Regions from separate parts of the Homo sapiens genome. Here region 1 is linked to region 2. The links come from fine-mapping of genetic effects on gene expression. Tissue or cell type: subcutaneous fat. Region 2 holds a variant in brackets; the other region holds the start of a gene. All regions are shown on one strand. Distances are from middle to middle.

Region 1 (2,683 bases), 70 kb before region 2:
CGAGATGAACCCTATTACTAATTACTTGACCACCTTTCAAAGTTGCAGTTAAAATTCTTCACATTTTTCTCCCATTTCTATTTAATTAATTATTTTTTTTTTGAGACAGGGTCTCTCTGTTGCCCAGGCTGGAGTACAGTGGCGTGATCTAGTCTCACCGCAACCTCCGCCTCCCGGGTTCAAGCGATTCTCAGACTCCCGAATAGCTGGGGTTACAAGTGTGCGCCATCACACCCGGCTAATTTTTGTATTTTTAGTAGATACGGGGTTTCATCATGTTGGCCAGGCTGGTCTCGAACAACTGACCTCAAGTGATCTGCCCGCCCCGGCCTCCCGAAGTGCTGGGATTACAGGCGTGAGCCACTGCGCCCGCCCCCCATTTCTATTTTAATTAAATTTTATTTAGGATAGGCTTAGCTTAAATTTTTACGACTGAGGTCTGACTTAAGATGATAGCATCAACCATGGAGTTTTCTTTCGTGAACATTATTATTACTAAGCCCAATTTTCCCAGGTCAAATTTTGTAAAACAAAACGTGGTCAAAATTTGATTCTCTGATCGATTTTTTGTAAAAAAGAAAAAAATTACCGTGTAGTTTTAAATGTTGTCAATTAAATTTTGTAATAGTTACCTCTACTCTGTTCAGGTTAATACTGAGGTTTTCAACAAGACCAACATACGATTCTTTTTTTTTTTTTTTTTTTTTTTTTTGGTGGGGTTGAGGGGACATAACAGTTTTTTCACTCTTGTTAAATTAATTTTCTGTTGATTCCATCTATCCTTAATCTTCATTATGAGCAACATACCAGGTTTTCTTCTGAAGATCATATGTGGTAGTGAGGCAATAATGCAAAGACATAGGATGGCAGGGGGATTCCGGCTTCTTTCTTTCTTCCCCTCCTGTGGAAAGAGGGTCTATAACACTCCGTAGTAGATAGGACAATTCTAATTATGAAGGGTAATTAGCTAGGCTCTGCTACAACCGAGAGCCCTGAGAGATTCCTCGACGCTGGCTGCTTTTCTCTTCCTCTCCACCAGAGGCGACAGCCTCTTTCCAAACAGAAACTGGGTTGGAATAGGCCGGTCCGGGGGAACGGCCAGAAGAAAGATCAAAGGTTAAAAACCGCCTCAAAGAGCACAGGTCAATACCCAACTCCTAAGGAGGCCTTAAGCTTTCATCTGCCACGAAACATGAAGGTGACTCCTCCCAATATCAAGGCCGGGGGGCCACTCAGCCTTCCAGAGACCCGGCGGGTCCGAGGCGAGTAACAGGTAACACCTGCTGAGCCGCCGCCGACCGGAAGTGGAAGAGAGCCCGGGACGGGGGTGAGGACAGGCCGCGGCACGCCTGCGCAGTCAGCAGGAGTTGCAGCGCTCATGCGCAGCTGGGCGGTGACAGGGTGACGCTCGGAGCGTGGGCCGCGACTCTCACGGATCCGGTTCCGCCCTCTCGCTGCCGATCCTTCGGAGCGAGCGCCCGAGATCCCTTTCCCAGAGTGCTCTGCGCCGTGAAGAAGCGGCTCCCGGGGACTGGGGGCATTTTGTGTTGGCTGGAGCTGGAGTAACAAGATGGCGTCGTCCGCGGAGTGACAGGGGTCCCTCTGGGCCGGAGCCGGCGGCAGTGGTGGCAGCGGTATCGCCGCCCTAGCTCACCGCGCCCCTTTTCCAGCCCGCGACGTCGCCGCGCAAGCGAGGCAGCGGCGGCCGCCGAGAAACAAGTGGCCCAGCCTGGTAACCGCCGAGAAGCCCTTCACAAACTGCGGCCTGGCAAAAAGAAACCTGACTGAGCGGCGGTGATCAGGTTCCCCTCTGCTGATTCTGGGCCCCGAACCCCGGTAAAGGCCTCCGTGTTCCGTTTCCTGCCGCCCTCCTCCGTAGCCTTGCCTAGTGTAGGAGCCCCGAGGCCTCCGTCCTCTTCCCAGAGGTGTCGGGGCTTGGCCCCAGCCTCCATCTTCGTCTCTCAGGATGGCGAGTAGCAGCGGCTCCAAGGCTGAATTCATTGTCGGAGGGAAATATAAACTGGTACGGAAGATCGGGTCTGGCTCCTTCGGGGACATCTATTTGGCGATCAACATCACCAACGGCGAGGTAATCATCTGGGGTGGGGTTCACGATAACGCTGCGCTTTTACTCATTCCCCCCACCACCACCGTGCACCCCCAAAGTGCTCGGGCCTCTCCTCATCGCACGCACTCGCCAGGGAGTCCAGGGAGCTAGTTTTCCTGGCTTACGAACCTCGTCCGCTGTCTCCCTAAAAGGGTCAAGAACCCGATAGAAAGGTTGGGGGAACTAGTTTCCCACCTTGTTAAACACGTCCCATAAATGTCCCTTAGTCGAGCTTTTTTTTTTTTTAACCGTCTTTTAAGGTGGAAACGGCAAAATCCTCTTTCAGTGATTCCCATGTTTTTTTTTTTTTAATTCTTAATTCTACTGGGCCTCTTGTTCCAATTAGAACAGTTTCCGATCGCCTAGTTCCTTAAAAACCTCTCACTACGTTCAGAGGTTGCCTCTTTTTTCTGGATGAATCATTTTCCTGCACTTTAGAGGACGTACGGATTTCGTCACTACCCCCTGAAGAGGCCTTTGAGGCTGGTTGCCTCGTTTTATAATTACCGAGAGCTTTCTCTTTCCAGCTTTTCACTTCTTCTTGTAGTCGCGACTTGGAGTTTTGCTAATGTCTCC
Region 2 (2,683 bases):
TTGAAATGGCTAGCTAATTATCCCAGTTGACTCACTATGTCTACAAATGAATCTACTATCTTGCCTCTCTAAACCTGCCCTTCCTTCTATGCATGGACGAGCAGGACACCTGGGAGCCACCCTTGACTCCTCTATCAAGTCCATCTCACTGTTTCCTTGAATTTGCCCTTTACTATCGCTTACCTGAACTCTTTTTTTTGTTTGTTTGAAACAGAGTCTCATTCGCCACCCAGGCTGGAATACAGTGGCATCATCTCGGCTCACTGCAACCTCTGCCTCCCGGGTTCAAGTGATTCTCCTGCCTCAGCCTCCCGAGTAGCTGGGATTACAGGTGCCCACCACCATGCCCGGCTAATTTTTGTATTTTTAGTAGAGATGGGGTTTTGCCATGTTGCCCAGGCTGGTCTTGAACTCCTGACCTCAGGTGATCTGGTCATTTTGGCCTCCCAAAGTGCTGGGATTACAGGCGTGAGCCACTGCGCCTGGCTGCCTGAACACTTGAAGTAGCTCTTATCTAAGCTTCATTCTCCATATGATTCTTGAATGTGCCCCTTCCCACCCCCACTGCTTTCAGGATAATGACCAAATTCCGTGATCTGTTCCCTGTTTACCAAGCTATCCAAATTTATCTCTTGGCTTCTATTCCCAGCCCCAATTTCCATCCCACACAGTACGCTCCAGATACACTCGCAATTCCCAGGATTCATTGTGCCATCTTGCCTTCATATGTTTCTCTGTGCTAGAAATGCCTTCCACTTTCTCCAATCTGCCTCTTTGTTCAAAAGCCAATTCAAACGTCTCTGGGAAGTTTCCCACACCACGAGAAAAGCTGGTCTGTGCCTCCTCTGCGCCTTCACTGCCGCGCTTTCCTAGCCAGATTTTGCAATTGTATTTCTGCAATTACTCAAACGTGTTTCCTTCTGACCAGACAAAGCTCCCCAAGGCCGGACTTCATTCATCTTTACTCCTAATGCTTGAGGAAGGGCACATGAGTTGCAGATGCTTAGTGACTATTTTTTTTAGTGATAGACTCATGGGGGAAGGCAGCTTAGCTATAGCTAAGACAACCTTGGGGTGTGCAGGTGGGGGCGGTGAGGTGACTTCCAACCAGAAAAGAACTTGTAAATCTATAGGCATAGGTCATAAACTGAGCGTGTGTTTCACCCAAAGATGTGTTCATTTCTCTCCAGGGGGACATAGCTGGGGGTGAGAGAAGC[G/A]TGGAGGACACAAGATTTTGGCATTGAAAAATAGCAAAGAGTCTAAAAATGTTATTCCTGGAAGGGACATTCAAGATCATAAAACATTAGGACAAGACTGCATCTTTTAAATGTACATTTTAAAATATGCTTCAACACTCTGCTATTGAGGACACTGGCTCAGAAAGGCGGAACTGACTGCATTAAGGCCATAAAACAATTTAGTGGTTTCTTCACCCTTTTTTTTCCCTAAGAGACAGGGTCTCACTTTGTTGCCCAGGCTGGAGTGCAGTAGCATAATCACAGCTCACTGCAGCCTTGACATCCTGGGCTCAAGTTAATCTTCCCACCTCAGCCTCCCAAGTAGCTGGGACTACAGGTGTGCACCCCCATGCCTGGCTGGTTTTTAAAATTTTTATTATTTTTTTTTTAATGTAGAGACAGAGGTCTCCCTATGTTGCCCTGCCTGATCTCAAACACCTGGGCTCAGCCATCTTCCCCTGCCTCGGCCTCCCAATATGCTGGGATTTCAGGTGTCGGCCGCTGTGCCCTCCAGATTTCTTCACTCTTAACCCTATTGTCTTAATATTTCTCATGTTAATTGGGATTTAGATCAGAAAGCAGGGCGAAAATGGTTTTCAGTTCTCCCAAAATAAGGGGTTGGAAATTAAGAGTCTTTTGAGAAAAGTGAAATGTGGATGGTCATCTTGTTTGCTGTCACTGCTGGTTTAGACTTTTCAAACACTTCTGTTCACATGTCCCTAAAAGAAATTTGAAAATAGTGTATCTATTTGCACACTTTTAAGTTAACATCTAGTTTTTAATTATTTATTTATTTTTATTTTTTGAGATGGAGTCTCACTCTGTCAGCCAGGCCAGAGTGCAGTGGCGTGATCTTGGCTCACTGCAACCTCTGCCTCCCACGTTCAATCAATTCTCCTGCCTCAGCCTCCCTAGTAGCTGGGATTACAGGCATGTGCCACCATGCCCGGCTAATTTTTGACATCTAGTTTTTTGGGGTTTTTTTTGTGATTTTTGAGACAGAGTCTCGCTCTGTTGCCCAGGCTGGAGTGCAGTGGCGCGATCTCGGCTCACTGCAAGCTCCACCTCCCAGGTTCACGACATTCTCCTGTAGCTGGGACTACAGGCACCCGCCACCATGCCCAGATAATTTTGTTTTGTATTTTTTAGTAGAGACGGGGTTTCACTGTGTCAGCCAGGATGGTCTCAATCAATCTCCTGACCTCGTGATCCGCCTGCCTCGGCCTCCCAAAGTGCTGGGATTACAGGCATGAGCCACCGCGCCTGACATCTAGTTTTTTAAATCATAACTTTAAGTAGTTGCAAAACTTGTGGTTGGAGGGTTTCTGTAGGGGGTTGTACTTTTCTGAGCACCATTTGAACTCAAATTTGAAATTTCTGTTTTTAATTATATCCCAAGAGAGGTCAATCAAAGATATCCACAGTATTACCTCCTTTCTTTGTTT

Which allele goes with the higher level. Alleles are on the strand shown, and positions count from the first base shown. SD is a standard deviation of normalised expression in the study named.
For the expression in subcutaneous fat of the gene that starts at base 1,492 in region 1, G is the high allele of the variant in region 2 and A is the other (small effect, 0.16 SD a copy in GTEx).

What was found. PIP is the estimated chance that this variant, and not a neighbour inherited with it, causes the effect.
Region 1: CSNK1A1 starts here. The variant in region 2 is fine-mapped to the expression of CSNK1A1 in subcutaneous fat (GTEx, PIP 0.97).

The regions. Positions count from the first base shown.
Region 1 is chr5:149,550,248-149,552,930 of GRCh38, reverse strand. It overlaps CSNK1A1 (casein kinase 1 alpha 1), which reads left to right and starts at 1,492. Exons shown (of 10, transcript NM_001892.6): 1 at 1,492-2,089. The coding sequence starts at 1,967. It also overlaps a transcript of ARHGEF37 not described here. RefSeq lists enhancers at 915-984, 542-1,335, 1,035-1,704, 1,735-1,794, 1,925-1,984 and 1 more.
Region 2 is chr5:149,480,270-149,482,952 of GRCh38, reverse strand. No RefSeq gene overlaps it. Among named protein-coding and RNA genes, the nearest start is that of MIR145, 51 kb to the right of the region's middle. The variant G/A (reference allele first, on the strand shown) is at 1,218.